Linked DNA regions of Homo sapiens. The protein of the gene in region 3 purifies or fractionates together with the protein of the main gene of each other region. This does not show direct contact. Each region holds a gene or a part of one and is shown on either strand. Other genes may lie near its edges.

Region 1 (2,204 bases), about 130 Mb from region 3:
TTTTTAAGAAAGCCTTTCCCTGGCTGCTTATCGCCCCAAGGTCAGCTGTGCTGGCTGCTGCAGGTTCAGTTCTGGGATACCCAGGGCAGTCTTCACCAGGCAGGAGGAGCCATCGGAGTGGGGCAGGGAGAGATGGCAAAGAGATCAGCAAAGCTCATGAGGGTGTTTGGAAATGCATTTGGCAAAGAAGTGATGGTGGAGTGAGATGAGATGGTCTGTGCTGGGCTTCCTTGGGTGGGGTGGGTGGGAGAGGGGAATGAGGGTGCCTGGCCTCAGAGGCCAGGTGGACAATGAGTCGAGTGGGGTTGGGGGGCACCAAGTAGAATTCTGGAGCAGGGAGGAGGAAGGCCGCGGAGAGGCTGTCCAGTGAGGCAGGACCAGGATGGGGGCACACAGGGGACGGGAGAATGGAGGGAGACTAAGTCTGATTCAGGAAAACAAAAACAGAATCTGGGACGAAGCAGTGGAGGAACTGAGACGGGGTGCAGGCCTTCCACAACCTTTCCTTCCCCATCCCACCACATCCTCTGTTTTCCCAGCTCCACATCTTCATACTCTATATCCACCCAGCACTAGATTTTCTTTTTGATGTCTTCTTTTTCTTCTCCTCTCCAACAGCTGTTCCAGTTCCTGCAGGCCACCGCCCAGGAAGAAGGGATCTTTGGTGAGTCCCAACCAGTCAGCCCAGGCTCCTGCAGGCAGTGGTGTTTGCTGGTGGCTGCTGCCCCCTGCCGGACAGTGACAACCCAACTCTAGGAAGGCGGGCTGCAGAGTAGTCTTCTGTCCAGTCGGAGATCTATCCCTCCCTGGGCTTCTTTAAACAAGAGGAGAGAAGCCTGTGCCCAGTGTCTCCCTGTCCTCCCTACCTAGAGCCTTCACTTCTCTCTTCTTTCCAGAGTGTGCAGACCCAAAGCTTGCCATCAGTGCTATCTGGACCTTCAGAGACCTAGGGGTGAGAGGAGCCAGTGTCACCATCTTCTGTCCCCCTGCTCCCACCCCAATAGAGTGGCTCAGGGAAACCCAGCTATGTTCCCATCACCCCACAGGGCTGGCCTGATGGTGCCTCATTAAGACCCTGGGATTTACTTGGTGTCTTCCAGCAATAGACGTGGTGATGGGTTGGAGAAGGTGGGATGGTTTCCTGCCTCTTGGTCTCCCAAATCACTGGCTCATCCTTCTAGGTGGGGTATTGGGGCTGCTTTGAGGCAGCATTTGCACTCAAACACTGAGGCCTAAGGGGTCAGAGGTCTCAAGGCAGGTTTCTGGGGGACAGGCCTGGCCCCTGGGCCATGTGGACACAGTCCCTGTGGTGAGTGCACTCACGGCCCATCTTCCATGGCCCAGGTTCTGCAGCAGACGCCGAGCCCTGCAGGCCCCAGGCTCCACCTGTCCCCTACTTTTGCCAGCCTGGACAATCAGGAAAAACTAGAACAGTTCATCCGGCAGTTCACTTGTAGCTAGAACTGTGAGAAGGAGCCTGTGCTGAGACTTCTGAGCCCCAGAACACAGCTGTGTCCTAGAGCCAGAAGATGGAGAGGAGGCTGCAAACCCTTAGCTATAAATATAATCATTGAGGCTTGATTGTCCCTTGCCATCTCTTGCTTTTTCCCTTCTTTGATGTGATAAACAAGGGGACGACACGAATTGTCTTTTCCCCAGCCCAGCAGCATCTTTTTGGCATATGTGTGTGTATTTGCTCTCTTCTTCCCCAGTCCCACAAAATGCCCCAACTTGTCCCATGAAACAAAGCCCAAAAGAAGACAAACAGCAGAAGCAAAGCTGCTGCTTTGACCTGACGAATTTATTGAAGAGAGCTCTGTCCTTCTCCCTTCTACCGAGAAGAGGCGGCTTGCAGGGCTGGCACCTGTCCACACCTGTCACTGGGCCTTTCCCTGGGCTAGGCTGAGTGGGAGCAGATGCCCTCATCCTATGTGCAGGGCCTGTGCAGGAGCCATCACACCACCTTGTTGATGATGACACCTAGTTCTTCAATCTCACACTGGACTTCATCCCCCTTCTGCAACAGAGCAGGCCATGACAGTGTCAGCCCTTCCGTCAGACACACATACACAAGCCTGTACTTCTCAAGTCTGAGGCAAGCCTGCCAGGCCTTTGGGGCCCTTGCTCTTTGCTTTTCGCTAACCTACCTTGAGAAAGACAGGAGGTTTCCTGAATACACCGACACCTGGGGGGGTCCCAGTTAG
Region 2 (3,500 bases), on a different chromosome or scaffold from region 3:
TTTATTTTTCCTCCAGATTATAAAGTCCTTGAGGGCATATGCTCTTGACTGGCTTAAGAGTACTGCATGCCTCTGTTTCCCATGAAAGCTAAAGCTAGGGTAGGCCCATTTGCTAAAATGAAGTATGGCTCAGTGTGGCGGTGCACACCTATAGTCCCAGCTGCTCAGGAGGCAAAGGTGGGAGGATCGCTTGAGCCCATGAGTTGGAAGCTGCAGTGAGCTATGATCGTACTGCTACACTCCAGCCTGGGTAACTGGGTGAGACCAAAACATGAAATGAAGTGTGAAAAATAAAGTATCTTATACCCTTTTAGACATGGAGAAGGTTGCTCTTGATTATACTAAATTCTGGATTTGCTTCATATGTATTTTTCAGGTAGCTTATTTAAAACTCGATGTACCTCTTGTGGAGTTGTGGCTGAGAATTACAAGAGTCCAATTTGTCCAGCTTTATCAGGAAAAGGGTAATTATACCACACTACAGAATAAGTATAGGTTGTTTTCTCCTTTAGGTTGAACATAAATGTGAGGAAATTGAACATTCATCAAAGATTCCCATGGATATTTATGAGAAATAAGACTAAATACAAGGCTGGGTGCAGTGGCTCATGCCTGTAATCCCAGCACTTTGGGGTTACAAGGTGGGGAGACTGCTTGAGTTCAGGAGTTCAAGACCAGCCTGGGCAACACAGTGAGAAACCTGTCCTACAAAAAAACAAAACAAAACAAAAAACCACAAAAATTAGCTGGGTGTGGTGGCACATGCCTGTAGTCCCAGCTACTAGGGAGGCTGAGGTGGGAGGGTTATTTGAGCCTGGGAAGTCAAGGCTGCAGTGAGCTGAGATCATGCCACTGCACTACAGCCTGGGTGACAGAGGGAGACCCTGTCTCAAAAAACAAACAAACAAACAAAAAAACTAAATATAGCCATGTGATAAAAGAAATATTTTGCTCACAACTTACAGTGTTAAGTGAAAACCACAGGGTCCTAAATTTGTACACACAATGAGTTCGTGTATCTGTATATAGTTAAAAGACCAGAAGAAAATACAACAAAATGTTAATAAGGAATATCAGGAGTGGAGGGATTATGGGTAATTTTTAATTTCTTCTTTATATCTTTCTGAATTTTCCTATATTTCTATTATGAACATGTACTATTATTACAATGAGGAAAAAATTTGAGGGTAGACACAATATTGAGAAAAATTCCACTCAGCCTTTTAAAAACAGTATAAATTGTATAAGGACTATATAATGTCATTGCAGAGGATACAAATGATGATGATGATGATGTATAAAGGTAAACATGAAGTTCCCCCTTGGCACACCCAGCCACTCCAGCCCTCCCCACACATGCATTCCCTCACTGGCAGTACAACCACTGGTGATTTTTTTTTTTCTGAGACAGGTTCTTGCTCTGTTTCCCAGGCTGGAGTACAGTGGCACAATCACACCTTACTGCAGCCTCCAACTCCTGGGCTCGAGCAATCCTCCTGCCTCAGCCTCCCAAGTAGCTAGGACTATAGGCACACATCACCACACTCAGCTAATTTTTGTATTTCTGGTAGAAATGCAGTCTTACTGTATTGCCGAGGGTTGTCTTGAACTTCTGGCCTCAAGCAGTCCTCCCACTTTGGCCTCACCAAATGCTGGGATTACAGGCATGAGCCACTGTGCCCAGCACCACTGGTAATTAATGGCTTGGGGTCCTTCCTTCTAATGCCCTTCCAAGTGAGCATGTATTAATTAGGAGTTTTATACCACATACTGCCAGGCAAATATACAAACTGAGTTATGTTGTTTCTTTATTTTTTATTATGCCAATAACAATCTTTCTTTTCTAATATTATTTACTTCAGTGCTCCAGAACCTGGAACTCAAGATGCCAGCATCCCAGTTGAGAAACTTCCCCGGTAGGTAGAAAACTCTGATTTGTACTGGTGTTCCAGGTTACCAAAACAAAAAAAAAAACAGACATCAAAACCTAAACATGTATTTGGCAAGACGCCTCTTAAATCAAATGCACAAATGTAAAAACCAGGCTTGATCTCTGAGACCAAAAGTGAAAGGACAAAGGATGAACCAAATTAGGATGAAAAGAATGATTTTTTTCCAACCTCTTTTTGCTTTGTGTTGTGGTAGGATCATTTGAGGTCGGGAAAGTTTCTGAAGCTGTCGTGCGACAGGTGGTTACCCAGTGTACAGAAAGCATAGGGGCTGACCTGTAACTGGTCAAATAACATCACTGGCATTATTAATCCAGGGTTAGGGAGGCAATGAAAGGACCTGAATAGGAGAGGTTACAGGACCAAACAGAATGTTCATAGATTAAAAAAAAAAAAAAAAAAAAGGAAGATTTTTATGCCAATTTTTCAAAACCAGGCATTAAAACAGCACTTCTATAACCTGTAATTGGATTAGAAGTTTTTTTGTTGTGTTTATTTTATTTTATTTTTTTTTGAGATGGAATCTCACTCTGTCACCCAGGCTGGAGTGCAATGGTACGATCTTGGCTCACTGCAACCTCCACCTCCTGGGTTGAAGTGATTCTTCTGCCTCAGCCTCCCGAGTAGCTGGGATTATAGGCGCCCGCCACCACGCCTGGCTATTTTTTGTGTTTTTAGCAGGGATGAGGTTTCGCCATGTTGGCCAGGCTGGTCTCGAGCTCTTGACCTCAGATGATCCACCCGCCTCAGCCTCCCAACATGCTGGGATTACAGGCGTGAACCACTGCACCCGGCTGGATTAGAGTGTTTTTAAGGTAAAATAAAACAGCACTTCTAAAAGTGTTTCATAGAACATTAATTTAATGTTACGTTGAGACATTACTTGAAAAAAACATGTTAGGCACTCAAATAAATATGGAAATGTTAGACTAAACAAAGTTAAAATATGTTTGCTTTACTGCAGGACTTTTTAGAGCATTTAATCCACATTGCTGCCTTCTAAAAAGTGGTTGTAATACGTATGTTAATGCTTTACTGGCTTATTTAACCACAGAACCTTTTAAATTTTCCTCATGAGGGTTTTAATTGCTAAATATTAAAAGTTTTCTTCTGAAGGAATAGGTAGACCTGGAGGATTCCTGTGATGCAGGAGATTACTATGATGAAAATGGTGTTTGGGGGATGGTTTTAGGAGGTGTATAGAAGGTAACCCTGAGGTAGGAGGGAGTGAAAGAAGAGAGATTTTTAGTAATGGACACAGGAAAGCTGGCTACATACTGGGCCAGAGAGACATGAACCTGAGAGAACATGAAAGGAGGTCATTGATGAAATTAGGGGATGCTTGGGGTGGGAGGCAAATCTGAGTCCAGTATGTCTCCCAGGTCTGGGTGGCTGTGAGCACAAATGTGAGCATAATGAATGAACTGGGAAAGCTTAGCTGAAACAATGTGTCAGCACATCAAGTACATACAGACAAGATAAAAAATAAGGACAGTTCTGCAGGGCGCGGTGGCTCATGCCTGTAATCCCAGCACTTTGGGAGGCCGAGGA
Region 3 (2,244 bases):
AACATAGACTTGTCTTCAGAAATAAGACTGAAGGGTTTTGTTGTTCCTTAGAGTTTTCGTGTTACATCACCTAAAGAGATTTCTTTTAAAAACTTTCTAGACTCTTTGCAAAATGTATATTACTAACATAGTTTGGAAGAAAAATTGAGTAGTGGTAAGTTTTGTTCAAGCACAATGTTGAATGTTAAGCTTCCTGTATTAATTTTAGTTCAGTTAATGGTTCAGCCCATACAAAGGTGCTATCCTAGGGATTTTATGAATTCCTGAAAGGAAAATAGAATATGATCAATTCCTTGCCCTGTGGAAGAGTGCAGAACTGTGGTTTTGTTTTCCTTTGACTTCTGTAAAATGTGACCGTTTGACATCTGTGGTAGATTGAACGGAATATCACAGCTGCTGAGTTTACTCCATAGCTTTCAAACCTTTTTTATTTTAAGAAATTCTTGAAAAACCCTATGTTCCATGGGAACATAAAGTTATTATAGTGCCTCCTAAGGGGTTAATATAAATCAAGGAGGAAGTTTATATTTAAGGAAGAATTGGAGTGACGTATCTTAGAAAAGGAAAGGCTGATGTTTCCATATAGCTTGCTCTCCACCAGGCCTATCATTTTTCTTTTTAGAGACAAACGTGACAGGCTAGTCTTGTCTCTCTCATATGCTAGGTAGCAAATGGGGTGATATTTTTATAGAAGTGGGCAAAAATTATTTTCTCAATTTTACTGAGTAGGCACAGAAGAAAAGTACAGATAGGCTGATGGTTATTGCCTTATTTTGACTGCATTTCTCTTAAATGGATCATTTAAATTAGTTCTTCAAGTAACAGTTTACTGGTTGTTCCATTCCTGAATATGCAGGCTAATTTGTACAGATAGGGATTAAGGAATACAGACTATTAGAGAAGATCCTTATATTTACATCTAGTATATATGTGGTAAGGAAATGCCGATTCTTCATTATAAACAAGTTTTAAAATTGTTCTTTCTTAGTTCAAATGATAGCAATACCCCTATAGCATTAGGTAGAAACAAATTATTCATTACATCGTAAATCTCTTTACTATGTCCTAGCTCTGTCCTGCTACCTAAAGGATATAAAGAAATACTATTGCTCTAGAATGTATTACTTTGTTCTCCCATGAAAGAATTCAGTTTGTTAGTACCTATATTTTTAAACTGGTGAAACTGACCCAAATATGTAATAAATACCATAGTAGCTCAGACCCAAGGAGATATTTTTCTAAAATCAGTTTTCGTTAAAGTACTTCTACTTCCGTTATTGGATATGGTATCTCCTAAAGTGTAAAAAAAATCTGTTACTATATAGTGATAAACCATCTGCTCATCGTAAGTGTAAGGCTTAACAAATAAGTAATACATGCTATATTTATTCAAGTGTCTATTGCTTAATTGTTAATTGTGAGCAGATTTATTGAATGCCTATTCTATTTTCTGCAGTTTACAATACAATAACTCTTTGAGTAAGTTGAAGTTTAATTGTGCAACAAATTTGTATTAGAGTACAATTTAAAGTGTTTTTCTCTATAGCCTTTTTTGACTGGGGAAGCAAGGGGTAATGTTAATTAGTACACTTTGTTCTTGTACTAGCTATGTTTCTATAAGATATGGTGCCCTGTGTATCCCAGAGATGCTAGAAAACTGTTCTTTGCTCCTATTTGTGGGTTCTGTTTTTGTGGGTTTTTTTTTTTGAGAAAATGTACACAATAAAACATTCCTTGCTTGTTACTGTGTTTGCCTAATATCACTTTTGTTGTAGTCAGCCTGGACGTAGGGCAATAACAGTAGCAACCATTTATTCAGCACCCTCTGTGTGCTGGGTGCTTTCACTACATTATCTTACTCAATCCTGGCAACACTTGGGCAAGGCATCATTCCTCCCATTTTACAGATGAGAAAACCAAGAGAATGTGTGTTATTAAGTCTGCCTTTCTGTCTTGAAAACACATGCCTTCTTCCTGCCTCTGGCCTGAATGTGCTAGCATGTCATTTGTGCTGTCTGTAAGGGTGGTGGGTATTACTGTCTCTGCCGCTTGAGGTAGCAGTCAGCATAGTGCAGGATATTTAGGCGCTCTGACTACACAGAGCTATCTAGTGATAACAAGATCAAGCTCTACTTCTCCTCAGCAGCTCAGTTTTGTGAGTGAACACGTGTGGTTCAGACCCAGAAGAACTGATACCTCAACTAAACCAGAGATTGATTTAGAAACCAGAAAGGCAGTGAATAG
Region 4 (4,241 bases), on a different chromosome or scaffold from region 3:
AAGAATCTCTGGAAAGAATGAAAGGCAGCAAATGGAGAAAACATTACTGAGAGCACGAGAGCAGGCTAAGGCCGTGGTGGTAAGGGACTCGGGCCTGTGCAAGAGTACCAGGAAGACACCTGTGGGAGGAGGTGGCCGGGTGAAGGAAGGGGCAGTGGGAGGAGCTTCCATGCCTAGGGACCAGTACCACCCCAGGCTGGAAGCCCAGAGTGGAGTCCTAGGACATCAGATCCTAAAGGGCTTGAATACCGTTTAAGGCTTTTCTTCCGGGAGCAAGTAGGAGCCAAAGAAGGGAAGTTGCGGGACTTGTTTTCGTGGGGCCAGTTGCCTGGTGGTTACGCGCCTCTCCTCTGAAGTCAGGCATCCTGTTCCAGAGTATCCTGGTTGCGCTTCAACTTGCGGAGTGACCTGGGGCAAGTGACTTTAACCTCAGCTTCCTCATCTGTGGAGTGGGGAGGGCGCAGCGCTGGTCGCCCTGAACAGGAAGTGAGACAACCTCGGGGTGCACACGCGCAGGCCCGAGCCGCAGGGTCCACGCCCGAGGCGAGGCGGCAGCGGCGCCTGCAGGGCGAGGGGACGAATCGCGATCTTTTTCAGAGTAACCCGCGTACAATAAAAAGTCCCCATGAAAAGGACAAACTAGCCAGGCGTGAGGGGCGGTGGCTCACGCCTGTAATCCCAGCACTTTAGGAGGCCGAGGCGGGTGGATCACCTAAGGTCAGGAGTTCTAGACCAGCCTGGCCAAGGTGGCGAAACCCCCGTCTCTACTACAAATACGAAAATTAGCCGGACGTGTTGGCGCGCGCCTGTAATTCCAGCTACTCGGGAGGCTGAGGCTGGAGAATCGCTTGAACCCGGAGGGCAGAGATTGGAGTGAGCTGAGATCGCGCCATGGCACTCCAGCCTGGGCAACAAGAGTGAAACTCCGTCTCAAAAACAAACAAAAAAGGACCAACTAAAAAAAGAATATAAATACAATAAATAACAGGACTTACGGGGGCAGGCTGACCCCTAAAGTAAGGGGTCGGGCTGGAAAGGATCTCAAGGGGTCAGAGTTTGAGCCGCCGAGGCGCGCGAGCCCCAGCACTCCTAGGCAGCTGCATCCGCCCCGGAAGATCCCCTGGGGCCCTGCGCTGGCTTTCCACAGCGCCATGTTGGACGGTCCTCCCACTTCCCACCTTCCCAGTCCTCCCGCTACTCTGACCGTTCTACCTGTGATTCTCGCTGGTGGAGTCAACCTGGAATGGATTCCCGCCGAACCACGCCTCCCTTTCCTGGTTCGCCCGCAGTTTCGGCCTATCAGGTTGAGTCGGGTAAACCAGGACGGGCCAAGCGGCACTCTCATTGGATATCACTGGTGGGGGCGGGAAGAAGGCGGAGCACGTGCCCGGGCGGAAGTAGCCGTCGCATCGCGGATTACGAAACGCCGCGGAGCTGAGGCAGTTCCGCTGGCTAGTGTGTACGCGGCGAGCTTCTCCCGGCGCCGCCCGCTCGGCTCCCATAGCGCCCGCGACAGCGGTCCGGACGCCGCCCGAACATGGACTCCGCCGGCCAAGGTACCTGCCGGGCCCGGCCCCTTCGCCGCAGATGGGCCCAGGCTGCCCGTTGTTCTCCGTCTCCCGGGGTCGCGTCTGCGACTCTCTGTCCTCTCGGTCTCGGTTCACCCACCCCGCGGCCCCTCTTCAGCTCCCGGGGCCACTGACCTCGAAGCTTATGATGGTCGTGGTGTGTTTTTTGCCCGCGGCCCAGACCGCTTCCTGGGCTCTCTCCAGCCGCCCTCCTGGTCTCCCCTGGGACCGTTCCGAGGTGTGGTTCCCTGGCGCCCGCCGTTGCTCCCGTAGTTTGGGTTCTGTCGCTCCCAGCAGGTCTCGCTTATGCCGCCCACCCCGTGCCCTGCTCTTGCTTGCTCTGCCACCCCCCGGTCCCTGCGCGGGGCCCTCGGGTTCACGCTGTCTGGCCCTGGACCCAGTCCGAGGTGTTGAGGGCGGCTCCCGAGCAGAGAAGGGGTCTTCGCGTTCAGCAGAGCTCCCCTTGGGCAGCAACTCTGCTCGGAGCTCAGCCTGCTTAGGGGTTGCCTCATGGAGAGGGGGTGGAGTGAGTCAGGGGCACACCCAGCATACCAGGCCTGTTTCCAGAACAGTCTCCCCAGAGCAGTATGAGATGGCCACTGAGGGGCGTGGAGCGAGCCCAGGAGATTAAAATCTTGAGAAGATGATAAAAGTCTGCCTTGCATTTTGGGGCTCTAGAGAGGGATGCTAAATTTCTTTCTTTCTTTCTTTCTTTCTTTATTTTTTTGAGACGGAGTCTTGCTCTGACGCCAGGCTGGAGTGCAGTGGCGCGATCTCAGCTCATTGCAACCTCGACCTCCCGGGTTCAAGCGATTCTGCTGCCTCAGCCTCCTGAGTAGCTGGGACTACAGGCACGCGCCACCAGGCCCAGCTAATTTTTGTATTTTTAGTAGAGGCAGGGTTTCACCATGTTGCCCAGGATGGTCTCGATCTCTTGACCTTGTGATCCGCCCGCCTCAGCCTCCCAAAGTGCTGGGATTACAGGCGTGAGCCACTGTGCCCGGCTACATATTAAGCTTTATAATTCCTAGGTGCTGCATTATTCTGGAGGGTGTTTTTTGTTTGTTTGTTTTTGTTTTTTTGAGATGGAGTCTCACTCTGTCGCCCAGGCTGGAGCGCAGTGGCTAGATCTCGGCTCACTGCAAGCTCCGCCTCCCGGGTTCACTGCCATTCTCCTGCTTCAGCCTCCCAACTAGCTGGGACTACAGGCGCCCGCCATCATGCCCGGCTAATTTTTTGTATCTTTAGTAGAGACGGGGTTTCACTGTTAGCCATGACGGTCTTGATACCCTGACCTCGTGATCTGCTTACCTCGGCCTCCCAAAGTGCTGGGATTACAGGCGTGAGCCACCGCGCCTGGCCTTTTTTTTTTTTTTTTTTAATTTTTTTTTTGGGGACAGCGTCTCCCTCTGTCTCCCAGGCTGGAGTGCAGTGGTGCAATCATAGCTTACTGCAATCTTCAACTCCTGGGCTCAAGCGATCTTCCTGCGTCAGCCTCCCAGGTAGCTGGGACTATAAGACTACAGGCGCACCATGCCAGGTTAATTGGTCTTTCTACTTTTTTTTTTTTTTTTGAGACGGATTTTCGCTCTTGTTGCCCACGCTGCAGTACAATGGCGCGATCATGGCTTCCCGCAACCTCTGCCTTCTGGGTTCAAGCGATTCTCCTGCCTCAGCCTCCCGTGTAGCTGGCATTACAGGCGTGCGCCACCATGCCCGGCTAATTTTGTATTTTTAGTAGAGATGGAGGTTTCTCCATGTTGGTCAAGCTGGTCTCGAACTTCTGACCTCAGGTGATCTGCCCGCCTTGGCCTCCAAAAGTGCTGGGATTACAGGTGTGAGCCATTGTGCCCAGCCTCATTTGTCTTTTTTTAAATAGAACAGAAAGGCTGGGCTCGGTGGCTTACGCCTGTAATTCTAACACATTGGGAGGCCGAGGCCAGTGGATCACTTGAGGTCAGGAGTTTGAGACCAGCCTAACCAACGTGCCAAAACCCCGTCTCTACTAAAAATAAAAAAATTAACCGGGCATGGTGGTGTGCTCCTGTAGTCCCAGCTACTTGGGAGGCTGAGGCAGGAGAATCGATTGAACCCAGGAGGTGGAGGTTGCAGTGAGCGGAGATCGTGCCACTGCACTCCAGCCTGGGTGACAGAGTAAGACTCGTCTAAAAAAAAAAAAAAGAGAATCAGTGGATAAAAAAGTGGATACGCTTCGTTTAGTAAGCGTTTGTGGAGCGCCAAGGAAGTGCACACGGCTCCAGTCCTATGGGACATTTGAAGGGAGTGAGATGCAGCCAGCTTTTAAGAAGAGTATCTTTGTTAAGTGCATTTAATCTGGTGTCTTTGTGTTGTCTTTTAAAAGGCATAGTTTTTTTTTCTTTTTCTTTTCTTTTGTTTTTTTTTTTTGAGACAGTCTCAAAAAAAAGAGACGGGGTTTCACCATATTGGCCAGGCTGGTCTTGAACTCCTGACCTCAGGTGATCCGCCCGCCTCAGCCTCCCAAAGTGCTGGGATTACCGGCATGAGCCACCCCGCCCGACCAGTTTTTCTTTTTTTTTTTAAAGAATTTTTTTTTGGCCGCGCGTGGTGGCTCAACGCCTGTAATCTCCCGGGTTCAAGTGATTCTCCTGCCTCAGCCTCCCAAGTAGCTGGGAACTACAGGCGCGTGCCACC

What was found.
Region 1: the proteins of WDFY1 (region 3) and FAHD2A fractionate together in Homo sapiens (co-fractionation; one large-scale study listed by BioGRID). This does not show direct contact.
Region 2: the proteins of WDFY1 (region 3) and SIRT5 purify together in Homo sapiens (affinity purification with mass spectrometry; 2 studies listed by BioGRID and IntAct, with this or other methods). This does not show direct contact.
Region 4: the proteins of WDFY1 (region 3) and TPD52L2 fractionate together in Homo sapiens (co-fractionation; one large-scale study listed by BioGRID). This does not show direct contact.

What each region holds. Positions count from the first base shown.
Region 1 is NC_000002.12:95,412,708-95,414,911, reverse strand, and holds part of FAHD2A (oxaloacetate tautomerase FAHD2A, mitochondrial), read right to left. Parts: coding exon 2,148-2,204; intron 2,018-2,147; coding exon 1,955-2,017; 3' UTR 947-1,954; coding exon of another isoform or gene 867-946; 3' UTR 729-866; coding exon of another isoform or gene 680-728; 3' UTR 631-679; coding exon of another isoform or gene 573-630; 3' UTR 1-572. UniProt on the Homo sapiens protein: Tautomerase that converts enol-oxaloacetate, a strong inhibitor of succinate dehydrogenase, to the physiological keto form of oxaloacetate. It is thereby required to maximize aerobic respiration efficiency by preventing succinate dehydrogenase inhibition.
Region 2 is NC_000006.12:13,595,101-13,598,600, forward strand, and holds part of SIRT5 (NAD-dependent protein deacylase sirtuin-5, mitochondrial), read left to right. Parts: intron 1-376; coding exon 377-464; intron 465-1,862; coding exon 1,863-1,916; intron 1,917-2,627; exon of another isoform or gene 2,628-2,764; intron 2,765-3,500. UniProt on the Homo sapiens protein: NAD-dependent lysine demalonylase, desuccinylase and deglutarylase that specifically removes malonyl, succinyl and glutaryl groups on target proteins.
Region 3 is NC_000002.12:223,874,848-223,877,091, reverse strand, and holds the end of WDFY1 (WD repeat and FYVE domain-containing protein 1), read left to right. Parts: 3' UTR 1-1,744; downstream 1,745-2,244. UniProt on the Homo sapiens protein: Positively regulates TLR3- and TLR4-mediated signaling pathways by bridging the interaction between TLR3 or TLR4 and TICAM1.
Region 4 is NC_000020.11:63,863,829-63,868,069, forward strand, and holds the start of TPD52L2 (tumor protein D54), read left to right. Parts: upstream 1-1,441; 5' UTR 1,442-1,537; coding exon 1,538-1,556; intron 1,557-4,241.